2 separate regions of the Homo sapiens genome follow, and region 1 is linked to region 2. The links come from fine-mapping of genetic effects on gene expression. A gene starts in region 2. The other region holds a variant in brackets. All regions are shown on one strand. Distances are from middle to middle.

Region 1 (9,546 bases), 92 kb before region 2:
TTTCTGATATGGTTTTGCCATGTCCCCACCCAAATCTCATCATGAATTATAATCCCCATAATCCTGATGTGTCGAGGGAGGGGCCTAGGGGGAGGTGATTGGATCATGGGGGCAGTTATCCTCATGCTGTTCTTGTGATATTCAGTAAGTCCTCATGAGATCTTATAGGGTTTTGTTTTGTTTTTTGGGATGGAGTCTTGCTCTGTTGTCCAGGCAGGAGTGCCATGGCATGATCTTGGCTCACTGCAGTCTCTGCCTCTTGAGTTCCATTGATTCTCCTGCCTCAGCCTCCTGAGTAGCTGGGATTACAGGCATGCACCACCACACCCAGCTAATTTTTGTATTTTTAGTAGAGACAGGATTTCACTACATTAGCTAGGCTGGTCTCAAACTCCTGACCTCAGTTGATCCACCTGCCTTGGCCTCCCAAAGTACTAGGGTTACAAGTGTGAGCCACCGTGCCCAGCTGAGATCTGATGGTTTTATACATGTTTGACAGTTGCTCCTTCACATGTTCCCACTCTCTGTGCGGCCACCATGTAAGTCGGACCTGCCCTTCTGCCATGATTGTAAGTTTCCTGAAGGACTTCCCCCTCTGCCATGATTGTTAAGTTTCCTGAGGCCTCCCCAGCCATGTGAAACTGAGTCAATTAAACCTCTTTCCTTTAAAAATTACCCAACCTCAGGTGTTTCTTTATATCAGTGTGAAAACAGACTGCTATACTTTCTGATACTCATGCTTAAGCAATTGGGGAATTCAGACTACCTGGGATCAAACTATGGCCCCACCCTTAGCAGTCATGTGACCTTGGGGAGGTTACTTACCTTCTCCATCTCAACAACTTCTGTAAAATCTGTAACATGAGATTGTTTCTGAGGGTTAAATGAGCATAGCACAGTGGGGACACTGTCAGGCACACACTACTTGCCAGATGTCGAGTATTCATCTTTATTGAAATAGGACTGTGGTAAGCCACTTTATGGCTCTCGATTTTGTATGAGAAAATCATGCTTAGTGCCTTGTTAGTAAAAGAAAGAAAACCTGAAAGTCCCTGCCATGGAAGGAAGAAATAGCGGGGAGAAAAGGGAGTTGGTAAGTTTCAGCATTTCAGAGCTTGGAGGTGCCAGTTAGGTTTCTATTTTATGGAGAAGGAGGTGGAGGCAGGATGGGTCCTAAGGTGTCATTCAAAACACACAGCCATAACTCTTTATTGAGAGTAGAGCTAGGGCCCCAGGGATTGCTGTGGTCAAGTTGCGGACAAAAATGACCACTCGTTGGAAGACAGGAGAGGAGTGTTTAGTTACAAAAGCAGTCAACAATTCAGGTGTATCTATATTCAGACAGCAAATAAAAGTTGTTCAACTTGGTTGCTAATGGGACCCACTCTACTGAGGCTTTGTATAGAACTCATAGAGGAAGCTGGCTTCAAGGAATGAACTACCCTGTGCTTTTCTTAGGACTAAAATCTCAGGAAGCTGGTGATGAATGAAAACCTTAGTCCCACTGGCACTGCACGAGGGGCCAGGAGAGCAGCAGCATCATAAGCCACAGGGTGGGGCAGCCAAGGCAGGGGCATTCTGAGCTGTTGGGGAGGGGTGGCAGGCAGGGTGGGGCACTGTGAGGTGTCGGGGAGGGCATTGTGAAGTGGGGGGTGGGGCATTGTGTGCCACATGCCTGGGCTCCCACCTGGGGCCAGTGGGCTTCAGTCTGTAGGTGACTACAGAAGGAGAAGGAGCTCCGTCTGTTCTCTCTTCAGGCAGTTGTTGTGTCTCTCAGCGCTTGTTGGGTTCACAACCTATTAAATAAGCCGGCTGGTCTTCACCCTCCCAGACAAGTCAACTCAGGGGAGGCAGCAGGGTGCGGGCCTTGGCCCGCAACCCTAGCCGGGGCCGGGGCCGGGGCCGGGGCCAGGGCTGGTGCCCGGGGCCGCGCTGTGAGGTGGGCAGGCGAGGAGCGGGAAGACCATCTCTGCAAGTGCAGCATAGCCTCGGCCTAGGACAGCGGGAGTGCGTGGCCAAAGCTGTGAGCAGAGGCACAGGTGGTGGCAGACAGTAGAGGCGCCCCATGGGGAACATACTGACCTGTCGTGTGCACCCTAGCGTCAGCCTCGAGTTTGACCAGCAGCAGGGGTCGGTGTGTCCCTCTGAATCTGAGATCTATGAGGCAGGAGCTGAGGACAGGATGGCAGGAGCGCCCATGGCTGCTGCTGTACAGCCTGCTGAGGTGACTGTTGAAGTTGGTGAGGACCTCCACATGCACCAGGTTCGTGACCGGGAGATGCCTGAAGGTGAGGAGGTGATAGGTGCCATCTACCCTCGGTTTGCCTTTGGCTGCTGCTGTCCCCAAGGTTCCCTTTGAGGCATCCCCCACTTCGAGCTCCTTTCTGCTTGTAGCCAGCTTTCCCGGGGGCTGGCCAGGAACAAAACTGGCTCTGCCTTGAATTCCCACCCCTTAGTCTTTCCCCACCGAGTCCAGTCAGTTTCTTTTCGCCTCCCCTCCCAATCGCCCAGTTCTTGCTCTCTCATCTCATTCTCCCAGGCTGGCATGGGGCCATTTATTTATGGCTCTTGTCGAATAAGCAGCAGTTGAATAAATGAGTTGATACATTTTTATAAATGATTACATCTTTTTTCTTTTCTCCCTCTATACATATAGCTTTGGAGTTTAACCTTTCTGCCAATCCAGAGGCAAGCACAATATTCCAGAGGAACTCTCAAACAGATGGTGAGACAACAGTGTCTGTAGCTCTGTTTATTATCCTGTGGGACTTTGTTTAGGCTTCTTTGAGCTATTCTCTTCCTTTTCTCAATAAAAACTCAAATATCCCAACTTTTCAGTACCCATCTTATTTTTTCTTTGTACCTATCCAGATGGTACCTAAGTGAAGGAACCAGGTAAGTGCCTAATTGTTTCCTTTGTTAAAGTAGCCAAATCTCAGGACAGTTCCTATTCAAATATTTGGGGATTTCTTATTTAAAATCAGAATGGAGGTTGCCACGGGAGAGGCTATATGGTATTCTTAATGGGCTGCTTTAAGTCACCTTGATAGAAGCTGCTTAGTTTCTTCTAACTGTAATTTGAACACAGAAGGAAAAAGAAAAAAGGAGAATGCTTAAAATAATTGTGAAAGGTGTGAAATGTCACAGCCGGGGCTGCAGAAAAATGGTTGTGTGTGTGTGTTTGGGGTTTCTCAAAGGAGTTTACCTATGAGGCTCTGATTACTTTAAAATTCTTACTTTAACAGAAAATGTGTCTCCAGATTTATTCTGGTGACTTAACAGACTTTATTTACCTCCTTGTTCTAAAAGAGAGGTGGGGATTGGTTCATGGTCAAAACTTTCAAAAGACATGAAACGTCAACGTAGACTTTTAATGTGTAATATAAAGATTGCAGGTTAAAATGTCAGACCTTCCCTGTTAGAGTGTTTGTTGCCATGGCTCCCCCTTTGTCCCTTCCCCTCCTGACAATAGCATCTTGTTCAAAGATAAGAAAGTTACAGTTTTGGCTGGGCTTGGTGGCTCACGCCTGTAATCCCAGCACTTTGGGAGGCCGTGGCAGGCGGATCACCTGAGGTCAGGAGTTCGAGACCAGCCTGGCCAACATAGTGAAACACTGTCTCTACTAAAAAAGAAAATACAAAAATTAGCTGGGCGTAGTGGCGCATGACTGTAGTTCCAGCTACTCACAAGGCCGAGGCAGGAGAATTGCTTGGACCTAGGAGGTGGAGGTTGCAGTGAGCAGAGATCACGCCAATGCACTCCAGCCTGGGTGACAGAGCGAGACTCCGTCTCACAAAAAAAAAAAGGAAAGAAAGTTGGAGTTTTTTAGTCTCTACACTGCTGGCAGAGGCAGGGGATGGGAGCCGGTAGAAAAGAGAAAACAATTAGTTGGTTTGCCTCTAAAATTTTGCAAAGAGATGAATCTAAGTAAAAGTAATTCTGGGTAATAATATGGTTCTTGAATAAAAACTGAAATTTTCAAAATAGAAAACATTGCATCATAAACATATTAAATCCAGTTGGCTTATTGGTTTCATTTAAATGCCAGAGATTTCATCACTGTAGAGGAAATGTCTTATAGCTCTTCTATTTAAACTTTGGTCGGGCTCTTAATTTTTAAAGAGGTAGGATAATTAAGACTCATTATGAGTGTGACTTTGTAACTTGGAAGTACTATCTTCACATTTCAAGATATTTAAGGATTGCTTTAGAATAAACAAATGCATTATGTGAATTAATTGATTGTACCTTTATACACAAAGCATGTAAGTACTTGTGTAAACTTATACTCTGCTTGGTGATGTTCGGAAAGCCTGATGGATGTTACACACCAGTTAGTAGATGGGTAGTGTTGGATGAGAGCCCAAAAATGGCTCTTTATTGTCATTCTTTAGGATTACAACACAGTTTATGTATGTCTCACTTGGCCCTTTCCAATACAAATAAGGCCTGTGTATGTTCTCCCTATGTATTGCTAATGAAGAAATGAAAACTTAGAGATATCACATGACTATGGAAGACAGCTACTCAAGAGAACTAAGGTTCTGTGTCCTCAGAATGAAATGGAAGTGACAGATATGATGAATTTACTTTTTAAAAATTTTAAAAACTCTAGAATACATCTTATATTTTGCCTATAAAATAGACTGTCTTTTAAAACTTACTGCTATCTTGATTTATTTTATGCAAAGTTGATTTTACACAACTCAAAGCCAAAATTTACCTCTTTTTTTTTTTTTTTTTTTAAATAAAGGAGGGTGTCATTGTGTTACTCATGCTGGCCTCAACTTCCTGACCTGGGTTCAAGTGATTTTCCCATCTCAGCCTCCTGAGTAGCTGGGACTACAAGCATGTGCCATCTTGCCTGGCTCTATCTTATGTCTATACATTCATTTCAATGGATAAGAATCAAAGTAGAGATAGTGAAATAGCCTAAATGCAGCAGTCGAATAAATGAGTTGATAAATTTTTATCAATGATTACATCTTTTTTTCTTTTCTTCCTCTATGCATATAGCTTTGGAGTTTAACCCTTCTGCCAATCCAGAGGCAAGCACAATATTCCAGAGGAACTCTCAAACAGATGGTGAGACGACATTGTTTTTTCCGCCAAGAGAAAGAATAAAATCTCTTGTTTGATCAGGTTATAGAAAGTATTTAGAAAAACTCATATTGGTTTAAATTTTTCACCTTTTCACATGTTCACTTGTCTCATTTGAATATGTGATATACTTTCCTTTAGTTGTTATGATGTTAGTGAAAATGTGTAACCTTTTTGTTTA[T/C]ACATTTTGCCATCTTTTTATCAACACAATTAATTTGTGATGTGATGGAGGAGTCATGGATTTCTCTTTATAATTCTTGGATTTATCTTTATTTATAATTAATGGATTTATCTTTATTTATAATCCCTTTTCCCTTGCTCCAAAAAGTACACTTTAAAGATGAATGATAGAACTTAGGCTTCAGCTTGGTTTTCATTTAAACAACTTAAAAAACATAGTTGTTTATCATCAGGGATTGAATCTGTGATTTGGGCCTCCTCTTACACAGTCCTCTGACCACATTCATTTACCACATCCAAGTTCATGCTACTCAAAAGTTTTAGGTTATTAACTTTTTCATTCGATGTAATGTAAATTTAAACGTGCCCTACTCCTGCTTATTTCCCTTAATGTTATGTTAAATCCTTATTTATTTGCCAACAAGCCATACACAGCCAAGTTTTCCAGTTGACTTAAACAGCAAGAATACAAGTGAGGGTTCTATAATAGTGTGCGAAGTAATGCAGCACAGTAAAACACGGGAGTTTGTAACCTTTGTTTTTATAGTTTGAGTAGACTTTGCCCATCTTGAGTCAGTTATTTCTGGTTAGAATTTGTCTTCATTTTTTACATTACTATAAAGAGATACCTAAGGCTGGGTGATTTATAACAAAAAGAGGTTTAATTGGCTCAAAGATTTTCAGGCTGTACCAACATGGCTTTAACATCTGCTTCTGGTGAGGGCCTCAGCAAACTTACAATCATGATAAAAGGCAAAGGGGAAGCAGGTGGTTCCACACGGTGAAAGAGAGAGGGGAAGGGGGAAGGTACCACACTCTTTTTTTTTTTTTTTTTGAAATGGAGTCTCACTCTGTTGCCCAGGCTGGAGTGCAATGGCACGATCTTGGCTCACTACAACCTCCATCTCCCAGGTTCAAGCAATTCTCCTGCCTCAGCCTCCCGAGTAGTTGGGACTATAGGTGGGCACCATAACACCTGGCTAATTTCTGTATTTTTGGCAGAGACAGGGTTTCACCATGTTGGCCAGGCTGGTCTGAAACTCCTGACCTCAAGTGATCTACCCGCTTCAGCCTCCCAAAGTGCTGGGATTACAGGCTTCAGCCACCGCACCTGGCCAGTACCACAGTCTTTTAAATTACCGTAATGAGAATGTGCTTATTACCATGGGGATGGGACCAAGCCATTCATAAGGAATCACTGCCATTACCCAAACGCCTCCCACTAGGCCCTATCTCCAACATTAAGGGTCACATGTTAACATGAGACTTGGAGGGGCAACATATCCAAAACATATCAGAATTGTATTTCCCAGTTCCTTCCAGAGCCATGGGCTTCTCACACCTAGAGAGCATGGAAGCAGTAAAAGAAAAGCTATTCCATGTCCCTCACTCTTCAGTGGTAGTAACTTTTGCCTACAAGGCCCTCCCAGCATCAAAGGCAGAGGCAGTGTAGGAAACAAAGCATGGCCCAAGTCCCTCTTGGGGCTTTTATTATTCTGGCCTCTTTTTAGGGAAAAAAAAATGATTTTTTTGTGCTGCAGACACCATGTCCAATTAGGTTTGTATACTTATTTTAACATCAAAATTTAGGCCAGGCTCTGTGGCTTACACCTGTAATCCCAACTCTTTGGGAGGTTGAGGTGGGTGGATCACGAGGTTAGGAGATCAAGACCATCCTGGCTAACACAGTGTAACTCTGTCTCTACTAAAAATACAAAAAACAATTAGCTAGGCATGGTGGCACGTGCCTGTGGTCCCAGCTAGTCCAGAGGCTAAGGCTGAAGAATTTCTTGAACCTGGGAGGCAGAGGTTGCAGTGCGCTGAGATCCCGCCACTGCACTCGAGCCTAGGTGACAGAGTGAGACTCCATCTCAAAAAAGAAAACAAATTTAAGATAGGTTACTTTCCAGTTGTGTAAAGACCATTTTTTAATTTTGTTTTGTTTTTAGTGACATATTAGTAGATAACCACTAAGTGTGGTTCAAGATGCTTACAGGGATTCTGTTGCATCTAGAGATAGGTGTCTGGTCAGGAAGTAGTTTTTAGAACTGTTAGCTCTTAGAGTCTGATAATTAAAGTAAGCTATGTGTAAATGCAGAATGAGAGAATACTAATGGATCATGGCTCATATATGCAACAGTTAAACTTTTTATTAGCTAAATTTTTCATCTGGCCTAATTTTTTTGCCCTTTTCTTTTGTACATGAGGATTCTTTCATTTGTATGTAATAGAAACAAAAAGTAAACTAAATGAAAATCTAAGTTTTTAGATTTGACTTATGAAATTAATCATGCCAGATAATTTAAATTATATGTTATTGAAAATTTTTTTTTAATGGAATTTTGTCTCATTTTTCATAGGAGTAATCAGTAAGATGTTAACAACTACTTTTATTTTATGGTATTTGTATCAGAAGTGACCAGTTTTTTTTTTTTTTTATTCTTAGTTGTAGAAATAAGAAGAAGCAACTGTACAAACCATGTAAGTAAACACTCAAATAGTTAAGAAATTGATAGTTTGACATAAAAGGATGTCTCTCTTGATTTCTTTAAATTACAATGTGGACCTGGTGGTGGTAGCATGGACCTCTTTTTGTGGATTTTCTAAATCTCTTCTATTTTCCTGAGTATTAAATTTATCCAGAAAAGTGCTTAGTTTAGCGTGTCCACCTTTTAAAGATTTCTGACATTTAAGTTAAATTTCAATAGTCCGGTTCAAAAGACCTGCCTTAAGGCTGGGCATGGTGGTTAACGTCTGTAATCACAACACTTTAGGAGGCCGAGGCAGGCTGATCATCTGAGGTCAGGAGTTTGAGACAACCCTGACCAACATGGTGAAATTCTGTATCTACTAAAAATACAAAAGTAGCTGGGCGTGGTGGTGCATGCCTGTAATCTCAGCTACTCAGGAGGCTGAGGCAGGAGAATCACTTGAACCCAGGAGGCGGAGGTTGCAGTGAGCCAAGATCGCACCATTGCACTCCAGCCTGGGCGACAGAGCGAAACTCTGTCTCAAAAAAAAAAAAAAAAAAAATTGCCTTAAATATTTAATCTTATTTTTAATGAAAGAACAAAAATAGAATAGCTAAGTTAATTGCCAGCACTGTCTATTGACTTTCTGTCACAGCAGGTAAAAGCATACCTTCCCCGCTACACCATGATCTTATGTTTCTCCCTGTGTTTCTTCCAATTGTAGCACACTTTTTAATTAAATCAGTAATATTTACATGATTATGACTCTGCAAATATTATTCACTGCTAAGTCATATGGTGTTTTCACTGTGCCTCTGCATTCCATGTCCTTCATCCTGTCTCTGAAACAGTTCTGAAATCTGAGCACTTCTGCAATTCTCCTGGATCTTCTTTTTTCCTAGCCTACATTAGTTTATCTATCCAAATATCGTTAAGTAGCCTCTGGGTGCTCTGTTTGCTTTCACATCCATTATTTTTTAGCATGAAGCTAATTTTCTGACTATATTCATTTGCCTGTTTTCTAACAGCTGTTTTCCCCCAAGTATTGTAGCATTTATCACATGCCTTTCAAAGATATTTTCCATCTGCGAAAACACATCTGTTCCTTTTTATGTTTGTGTGGGGGGCAACTTTCTTTGGCCTTTTGTCATCCTAGTTCAATATAGCGTGGGTTTCCCTAGATATGCTCAATGTCTGCTTTTCTGGGCTAACTCTTTAAAGTCTTTTGGTATCTCACGTAACTGCTGTCTTGTGTGGGATCACCTGAGTCCTAGATTCTGTGTTTCCTTCTGTCCTGTTATCGTCTCTAGTTGTACTTGAACACATTTTCCTGTGTGGAGATGTTAAAATCCCTCCTCTTTGATAGAGAGTACACCTCTAGGTTGAATCTAAATGTTGTGGTTCTGAAGACATTTTGCAGTTGTGCTCTTATTACAGTGTTGTTCTTGAATCTATTGCCAGTGTGTGATACGTTATTTACAACCAGGTTTTAGTTATCTGTGGAAGCTTTTTAGAATCTCTCTCTCTAAGGTTCTGAAATTTTATAACAGCTTGTTGGGGATCTTTTCATTTTATTGAGGCTACTAAACCTGCAGACTATCTCTTCTTGAGAATTTTTTTTTATTTTCTCTGTTACTTTTTTACTGATAGTCTTGTTATTCAGATGCTAGGCTGCTTAGACCAATATGCCTGCATTGATTTTTAATTTTTCCCCTTGTATTTTTTTCAGTTTGTCTTTTTATTCTAGTTCTGGGATATTCTGTGACTTTATCCTCTACTATTTCTATTGAATTT
Region 2 (9,546 bases):
TGTCTTCTGAAAGGGCTTGGTGTCTGGAACATCCCTGAGCAATCTCATGGTGAGAGGTGATGACGGCAACAACATGTCTGGCGGGAGAGCAAAGAGAAAGAGGATGGCGCTAGGAGTGAACCGCCAATCCCCGTGTCAGGGCAAGGGCGCGGATGCCCTTTTTATGTAGGCAAGTAAGCTGCAGGCAGGTCATAGCCTGTAAAACAAGCAGGGGTGATGTTGACCCCAGCAGAGAGAGAGCCAGAGCCTCAGCTCACACAGAGCATGCATTAGGGGGAATCACAAAAAGGCATCCACCTGTAGCTTATGAATTACACAAAGGTGGCCCTTCCTTTCCTGTGCAGCCCATTATTGGGGCACAAAACCATGCCTACAACTCAGCCTCCACTTACTCATTTGTCTGGTACCTTTATTCATGGCACAAATTACATAAACAGATTGGTAGCCCTGGATGGGCCGAGGAATGGTCTTGTAAGTAGCTGGGCAGAGGCAACATCACTGGGCATGGGTTTGTACTCAGAGATCTTCTGCAGGGGAATTCCTGAGAAAACACAAGATTGTCTCACAGAAGAAATGGCCAGCTCAAAATATCTGCTGAGCCCAGGGGGCCCATTGCTGAAGGACTCCAGCTGTAGAGGTGTCAGACACCCACTGAGTCTGGAGGGCCTGGGTGTGAAGCTGGGTGAGAAAGGAGAAATTGATGGTACCCATTTCTCAGGCTGAAGGTGAAGAGAGCCTAACAATTAGATAAGTCAGAGGGAATCTTAAACTGAAATGGGAATATTCTGGGTGTTCAAAGTTATAAACCAGCCCAAGATTTCATCTGCACGGGCCCAGGGGAAAAAAGCATCTGGGCATTGAGTTCAAATGGCATTGGAAAGAAATTTGCACTCTGTTAGGTCCAGCTAATGAGATGCAGTTCAATGAAGACATCTGTATTCTTGCTGTAAAGCACAGGGCTTGGCGCAGACCAAGGAATGACTCATAAGGATTAAAAGGCATGAAACCAGGTTCTTTCTTAGAATTTGGCAGTCTTTGCACTTCACTTTCTGCCACATCATTATTTTACAGTTAGTACGTAGAGCTGGAAGTGGAGGGCAGGACATTTATGTTCAAGGGTTTGTGGCAGGCTCTCCTGCCAGCTGAGCAGCTCTCTCCTGTCGAAGTCTATGGATTCTCTCTCCTTGTGGTGTGTGCACGCAGAGCCATGGGCTGGCTGAAGCTGCAAATGGATGAGCAGCCAACAAATTGATCAATCTATTAATATTTATTGGGCATCTGCCGTGTGTCAGGCTCAGGGACCAGGCAGCCGGGGATTCACAACAAGATAAATGTATGTCCTTGTGCTCTTTAAATAGTTTTCTACCTCCACTGGGATTTTTACTGGCATTGAAATCTCCACAGTTTATTTTTATAGAGTCTTTTATGTGAAGTGTCTCAAAGCAGGGCAGAGAGAAACACACAGAGAGGCCCCCACGGCTTCTTCCAAGCTCATGGTCCTCATCAACTCACACTTAACAGGGCTGGGTGTGAAGCATACCATTCCCAAATGAACCAGGCTGCAAAGCACAGGCCTGAAGCAGGCGGTCCTGTGAAGGGTAATGTCAATGAAGTGATTATTTTTTTCTGTCAGTATTGTTCTTAGTTATCTTCTGTTCCTGGGCTCCAAGCCTGAATTAGAAAACTCTGAACTCGAGCATAGGCCTTGGGATCTCTCCTGAGGTCCTGAGTTCCAGCTATCCACTGGGGTCCTCCTGACTGTATCTGGGGACCCATGGCTTGGAGGAGGGTATGTTTGGCAGTAAGTTCTTATACTTGTAAGGAGTAGATGAGCCCTACCTCAGCAGAGAGCAGACATTGGCACGGCCCTCAAGGTCCATCTCAGAGGGCGTCTGGGTATCCGGATCAAGGCCAAGGACTGCAAAGACAAAAATTCCAAACCCAGCATTACCTCCCTGTGCTGGCCAATTCTGCTCCTCCAGCTGAGCCTTCCCAGTGTGATGATTTGAATGTTTGTCCCCTCCCACACTCATGTATTAATATTCAAAGAAATTTGGTTGCTGCTGTGGCAGTGTTAGGAGGTGGGACCTTCGGGAGGTGAAAGGACCATGAGGACTCTGTCCTTCTGGGTGAGATTAATGCTATTAGAAGAGGGTGAGTTTGCCTTCCTTTTTCCTATTTGCTCTCTGCCTTCTGCCACATGAGGACACAATGTTCCTCTCCTCTGGAGGATGCAGCAAGAAGACTCACACCAGATGCTGGCACCTGATCTTGGACTTCCCATTCTCCAGAACTGTGAGAAAAAAATGTTTTGTTCTTTACAAATTATCCAGGCTCAGGAATTCTGTTATAGCAGCACAAAACAGACTAAGACACCCAGGGATTAGCATTGAGCCTCGGACCATGCAGGAAATAAGGAGGCGGTGTCTGGGGGCTGTGGTGCAGCAGGCAGGGGACAACCAAGCGACTTCCCAGCCCTGTTGGAAAGTGGATCTGGAGGGATGGACTAAAAGAGGCAGAACTGAGGCCTGGGCTGGAGGACCTGAGAGTGAAACTGGGCCTGCACTGGGGAGTGAGGAGGACCTGAAGCTGCAATGGGAAGCCCTGTGTGGCTGAATCCTAGAACCATGAGGAGAGGCAACATTAGCAACTAGATCTCTGGCCTCTGCTTTTGGAATCACTTTTGGATTCACTTTTGGATGAGTGGTGCATGAACTCATCCAGACTGATGTGTGAAGGGCATCCAGGCTTACCCCTGAAGTATGGAGACTGCAGTGGGTCTGTTGCTCACAGAGGAACTCCCAGAAACTCTGGGAGAGTCACAGACCTAGAGAAGCGTATGGCTCAAACCTCTTGAGCAAGAAAAGCAGTGTTCACTGCCAGGCGTGGTGATGAATGCTTCTGTTTTTTGTCTCATTAAACACTTGCAACTGTGTCTCCTTTTTTAAAAAAAGGAAAACTGAGACACAAGTTGGGAAGTAACCTGCCAAAGGTCACCAACTATTCAGTAGCAAAGCAGGGACTTAAGGCCAGGCTTGCAAAGCTCCTAGTGCTACTGGTAATTGGTAAGACTCAAGGGTTTAAAGAGGCCTCCAAAGAAGGGTAGTAAACTGTGATGGGCCCTAAACTTTATAGTTCTTCGAATTTTTCACAGGTAAAAGGACAGAAAGCCAAGAAGAGCCTTCTGGGTCACTGGCTTCTGGGAATATTGTGTGGTCAAGCAGGAAGTCTGGGGGAGATGGAATGACACCTCAGGGTCCACTCTTACCAACTGTTCATTTAGCCTCCATGCAAGGATTTCCTGGTGATGTGAATGGGGGTTATTCCCTCTGTGTGTCTTGGAGCAGCCATGCTGCTCATGTTTGTGAAATGATGACCAGTGCAGAATCTTGATGTTAGGCACTATGAAGAAACATTAGACATGGGGTCCATCTTTAAAGGGGAATCTTACCCTGGTGATATAGTTTGGATATTTGTCCCATCTAAATCTAATGTTGGGCTGGGTGCGTTGGCTCATGCCTGTAATCCCAGCACTTTGGGAGGCTGAGGCGGGCGGATCACCTGAGGTCAGGTGTTCAAGACCAGCCTGGCCAACACAGTGAAACCTCGTCTCTACTAAAAATACAAAAATTAGCCAGGCATGGTGGCATGCTCCTGTAGTCCCAGCTACTGGGGAGGCTGAGGCAGGAGAATCACTTGAACTGGGGAGGTGGAGATTACAGTGAGCTGAGATCACGCCACTGCACTCCAGCCTGGGCGACAGAGCGAGACTCCATCTCAAAATAAATAAATAAATAAATAAAATCTAGTGTTGAAATTTGATCCCCAATGTTGGAGGTGGGGCCTGGTGGGAAGTGTCTGGGTCATGTGGGTAGATCCTTTATGAATGACTTGGTGCTAGTCTCATGGAACTGAGTGAGTTCTTAGTCTTTGTTTTCATGAGAACTGGTCATGGAAAAGAGCCTGGCACCTCCCACCTCTCTCTCTTCCTCTGTCTTGCACACATTGGCTCTCCTTTGTCTTCTGCCATGAGTGGAAGCTTCCTGAGGCCCTCATCAAAAGCGGGTGGTGGTGCCATGTTTCTTTTACAGCCTGTGAAACTGTGAAACTAACAAACCTCTTTTCTTTATAAATTACCCAGCCTCAGGTATTGCTTTATAGCAACACAAACAAACTAAGACATATGGCAATGGCGTGGGTTGCTTGCAGGGTACCTTGGCTGCTACAGAAAGAAAAAGTCTCTGTAGAGACTCACTGTCAGTGACTCACGGAGCAGAAGGCTGGCCTCAGAGCCTGGACAGAGGGTAGCTGTCACTGCTTAACTGCAGTTCAGCTCAAGCATATGGCTCTCTGTGGGACCAGCACTGAAGGCTGGGGGATAAGTGAGGCAGGTCTTGTCACACCTTCAGGGTATCTGGATTCACCAAAGTGGCTCAGGTCAGGACCAATGAATAGAGGTTTGTTCGTCAAGATAAAAAGATTCTGGCTTCCTGTTTTCAGGCAATGCCAACGATTGAATTCCCTCTACATTGACCACCCTTGCTGAAGTTGTCTTAATTGACCTAGCAGCCAACTGACCTCATATTCTGGCACAGGCTCTGACTCCTTTTGCCTATCTGCCCTGCTCTGATACTACAAAGAGACCCCCCCACCCCAGCCCTCTGGGGCCTCATTAGGGGCTTAGAGGGCAGGCGTGGGTCAGGCGAGCATTCCTGGAGAACACAGTCCTCAGTGGTTCAGGATATGAGCATAGCTCAGAGAGCTGTTGACATTATCAGCCTGGCCTGGGAGAGGGGGACCCGCACAGGGTGGTGCACAGGGCCCGCAGGGAATTTACAGCGGCGTCCGCGGCGATGGGCTCTCAGTGCCTTGGAAGACCGGTAGAGGCAGGTTCTGTCTCTCCCGGCCTGGCAAGCAGAGGGCCGCGGCGCAGGGCAGAGTGCCGCGGCGCAGGGCAAAGCTCCAGTGCGCAGGCTCGCGGGCGCAGGTGGGATTGGATAGCGACGAAGGCCGGCAGGCTAGGCGTGGACCCAACTGGCGAGGCTGCTGGGGTTGCAGCGGGACAGTTGGGGCGGCCCCGCAGGCCCAGGTGAGGAAAGGTGGCTGGGGGCCAGGTGGGCAGGGGGCGTGCGGGAGGCCGCTGCGCCGGGCTGTGGGAGGGCGGGCGTGAAGAAGGAAGATGCCGTTGACGTGCAGGGGTCACAAGGCGTGGGTTGTGGCCCTGGCCCGGGAGACTGCCCGGGTGGGCCTGAGCTGTGAAGTAGTGTCGCTGCAGCCAGAGGGCAGGACGTGATTCTGGCCGTGTGATGCCAGCTGCACTGTGACGCGTGTTGGGGCGCCTATGCGAGACGGGACCGGGACAGGAACCCTGTGGCTCTGTGGTAGGGGAATGCCACCAACTCCCTGAGGAGCAGCCGTGTGGTATGATTGGTAAGAAGCCATCATCAGGCGCTGAGACAGCCCAGAACTTCCCAATGACTCAAGGGCGGGTGGAGGTCGAGGGACCTAGAAAGAAAGAACATGAATTCATCAATCCATTCAGCAGCTATTTTGAACGCCTCCTGTGTGCCAGATGCTGTTCTAGAAGCTCAGAATATCTATGAACGCGATAGGCAATGCCCCCATATGCCAAGGCCCTCATATGCTAGCCTTGACTCAAGGAAAACTGTAGGATGGGGTAGGTTTCATTTTTGGAAGTTGTGGAATCAGTACTTATGTTTTGAATGTGTTAGGTTTGAGATGCCCAGTAGGTTTTTCCCAATAGAAGACATAAGCATAGCTGGGAAGAATTTTGCAGAGGACTCTGACCACCTACCACCTACAGGTGCCATGAATATTTAGCACATTTGATTTTTCACATTACCTATTCACCTTCTCTCCATTTATCAGTCACCTGGTAGTTTTTTTTAGTATGGTGAAATATACACACATAAATTATCTAGTAGATATTTGGGTTGAGATATCAAATGTGCTTTTTAGAAATTTAAATCTGAAGTTCTGGAGGATGTCGGGCTAGAGTTAACCTTTGGAATCGGCATCATATACTGTACATAGTATTTAAAATATATGGGACTGGTGAAGACATCTAGTTTAATAGTGTACACAAAGAAGAGGAGGCGAAGCCAAAAAAGGGAGGGAGGTAGTGGTCAACCATGTTGAATGTTACCGTATAAGATGACTTTGGTAATTAGGAGGATTTTAATCATTTTGACAAGAACAACTTTAATGGGGAAGAGGGGCCTTAAGGTTGGGTAGAGTTTTTTTCAAGATAGAAGAAAGCAGAATGTTTATATGGCAATGTGATTAAACTCGTAGAAAGGAAAAACTGCTGCAGATGAAAGAGGGGAACATTGTAAAGGGTAGTTGTTGAATACCTGAGAAAGGAGAAGACCCTAAGCAGGTGAGTAGTTGGTTTTGAAATGAGCAGGGACACTTACTCTGTTGTAACTAGAGGGGAAGCTGAGATAACAGGTGCAGATACAGTGGGTGGTGGGAAAAGAGTCTATTGGTATAGGCATCCATCAGCTTAGAGGGAGGGCAGCGGGGGAGAGGAAAGGTGTGGGAACTTGGAGGAGAGATATGTGACAGAGTCCTAGAGAGGGTGAAAGTGAGCGTACTAGAGAAATAGAGTTGGATTCCCAGGCAGTGCTCAGGGCCCATTTGAGACGTGTAGTCTTACATTTAAAGTGATATAAACCAGTGTGGTTGTTTCATGTTCAACTTTGGAAGGGTGTTGTGAGGATTAAAGAAGGTAATGCATGAAAAACATTTAATAGAGTGTCAGGCGTTTAATGAATGTTAACGCTTTTTATTTGAGCCCTCGTTTTGTTTTTCTTTTCTGTTTATACATATGTGACTGAGGATGGCTGGCAATTACCACTTGACAGGCTGTTCTGGGGCATGTTCTCCCATCACAGAGAACTGCAGTTTGCAGCTACTCAGAAGTCTGGTTCCTGTTGTGTTTACATGTACACAGCTTGATAATTGAAGATGTTTGCTTTTTAGAGCCATTGTCCTGGACTGTTTGGGCTGGGGTTTGTCACAGTGACAGTCCTTAAGTTTTTGTGAAAATCTTTTATGACTGCATTTCATATTGGATCTGATGTACTGGTAATCTACAGAATCTACAAATCTAAGATTGGCAGGAAAATTTTCAGTTTAATAGATTTTCATTTCTCCCTGACCACTTGAGCTGTTTTAAAATACAAATAATAATAATGGCTGACAGAAAGCTCTTAAAAGTGCCAAGTACTTTTCTAAGCACATCACATGCCTAATCTTGTTTAATCATCACCTCAGCTCTACAAGGCAGGTACAATTATTATCCTGATTTTTCAGATGCAAAAATAGGCTCCAAGAGGTTAAGTAATTTGCCCAAGGTACCCATACCCTGACCTCCAGTTTCTACTGCAGACAATAACTTTTTCTTTTTTTTTAAACTGCTTGGCCATCACTCATCTGCATTGCAGTGGAGTACTTAAGATGTTGGACTCCAAAGCCAGATTGCCTGGTTTCAGAAAACTGCCACTTAGTAGCTATGGGACTTTGGGTAAATCATCTAACTTCTGTGTGCCTTTGTTTCTTTTTTGACAAAATGGAAATAATAATAGTACCTGCCTGATAGGGCTATTATCATCGCAGTTGAGAATCACATGAGTTAATATATTTAATATGCCTAATATAGTGCCTGGTTGTTTAAATGCTACTATTATCACCTGCCTGGTAGTACCACCATGGTGCTGTATATACTGATTGGTTTGATCTATCAAAATAAGATTCCAAGTGTCCTGTTATTGTCTAAGCAGAGTTTTAAAATTGCAGCCCACTATATTATTCCCACCTCAGGGATCACTCCTGTTTCCTCTGAGTTTATCTCTCTGAGGGAAACAAATAGATAACAGTTTGCTTCCAGGAGCAGACAACAACTCAGATTTCATTCAGACTCATTTGACCAATAGAGTTCATTTCATTAATCCTGGCATTACATACCACTTAGCAAAGGGGAATAAGGCTTGGGGAGTAATGTGATTCCATGTTGCTTTTCCCAGATCAGCAGCCCATTTAGAGGAATTTGGTTAGAAATACCAACGGACTACATAGCCAGTATTTGGCACAGCATAGGGTAGGTGATGTGGGTCAGTGGGCTGGACATAAAAGTGTTCTGAAAAGATCTGTAAAGTCATTGGAGTTACTGTGATGTGTTGTGTCAGTTACTGATTAAAAGTAACTGGCAGGCTTGGCATTTGAGACCACTGAAAGTTTTAAATGATCTTTCTGATATACAACACGTAGAGTAAATGTATGATACAAAGTAGTGGTTCTCAGTGAGTTTGCATCAGAATCACCAGTGGGGAGTTTTATGAAGATTTGCACAATGACAGGCTCCACTTCCACAGATTCTGAATCAGTAAGTCTCGGTAGGGTTCTGGAATCAATCAACTTTTTTAAGAGCTCCCCAAGTGACTGTGATGTGCAGTTAGCATGGCATATCGTTAGTACAAATCAGTGCTTTTAAGCCCTGACTGTGTTTTACAATTACCTTTCTATCAGCTTTTTTAAAAAATACTGATATTCTGGAGCCACCCCAGGGATTCTGATTTAATTTGGCCTGGTGAGTTCTGGACATACGTGTGTTTCTTTAAAAAAATTTCTGAGATGATTCTAATGTACAGCTAGGTTTGAGATTCACTGGCATAGTCAGCTAGATTTCCCGCCATAGTTTATTTACTCTTGAAAATTTAAACATAGCTTCAGGCAGCATCTTACCACCAGGAAAGTGGAAAAATGAGCATTTCTGAATTTCCTCAATGTAAATGTTCAATAAAATAATCAGCTAACAATGAAAAATGTGAATTGCTGGTAGAATTAGCATTTCTTACCCTAAGCTATGAAGATTTGATCAAGTTTCCCTTGGGGATGAGAATTTACATTTCCTGAGAGCCTTATATAGAATCTCAATATTTCAGCAACTCTGGGAGGTACATATATTTCCCATGTTGTAGATGAGAATTTTGAGGCTAAGGGAGGTTAAGTAGCTTGCACACTCAGTTGTGTACATTTCCAAGGTCTAGGTTCCATTTTTTCAGTGATTCTCAACTTTGAGTGCACACTGGGATCACCTGGGAACTTTAAAATTACCAGTGCTTGGCTGGGTGTGGTGGCTTACGCCTGTAATCCCAGCACTTTGGGAGGCTGAGGCGGGCGGATCACGAAGTCAAGAGATCAAGACCATCCTGGCCAGCATGGTGAAGCCCCATTTCTACTAAAAATACAAAAATTAGCTGGGCGTGGTGGCATGCACCTGTAGTTCCAGTTACTTGGGAGGCTGAGGCAGGAGAATCACTGGAATCTGGGAGGTGGGGGTTGTAGTGAGCCAAGATGGCACCACTGCACTCCAGCGTGGCAACAGAGCAAGACTCCGTCTAAAAAAAAAAAAAAAAATGACCAGTGCTGGTGTTCCATTCTCAGAGATTCAGATTTTGTTGGTCTGGTGTGGCCTGGAATTGGGATTTTGCAAAGCTCTCCAGCTAATTCTAATGTGCAGCT

Evidence for each region. PIP is the estimated chance that this variant, and not a neighbour inherited with it, causes the effect.
Region 1: its variant is fine-mapped to the expression of PTPN20 in whole blood (TOPMed, PIP 0.90).

What each region holds. Positions count from the first base shown.
Region 1 is chr10:46,814,451-46,823,996 of GRCh38, forward strand. It overlaps the pseudogene AGAP13P. Among named protein-coding and RNA genes, the nearest start is that of FAM245B, 79 kb to the left of the region's middle. The variant T/C (reference allele first, on the strand shown) is at 5,283.
Region 2 is chr10:46,906,413-46,915,958 of GRCh38, forward strand. PTPN20 (protein tyrosine phosphatase non-receptor type 20) reads left to right here and starts at 5,016. Exons shown (of 11, transcript NM_001042357.5): 1 at 5,016-5,089.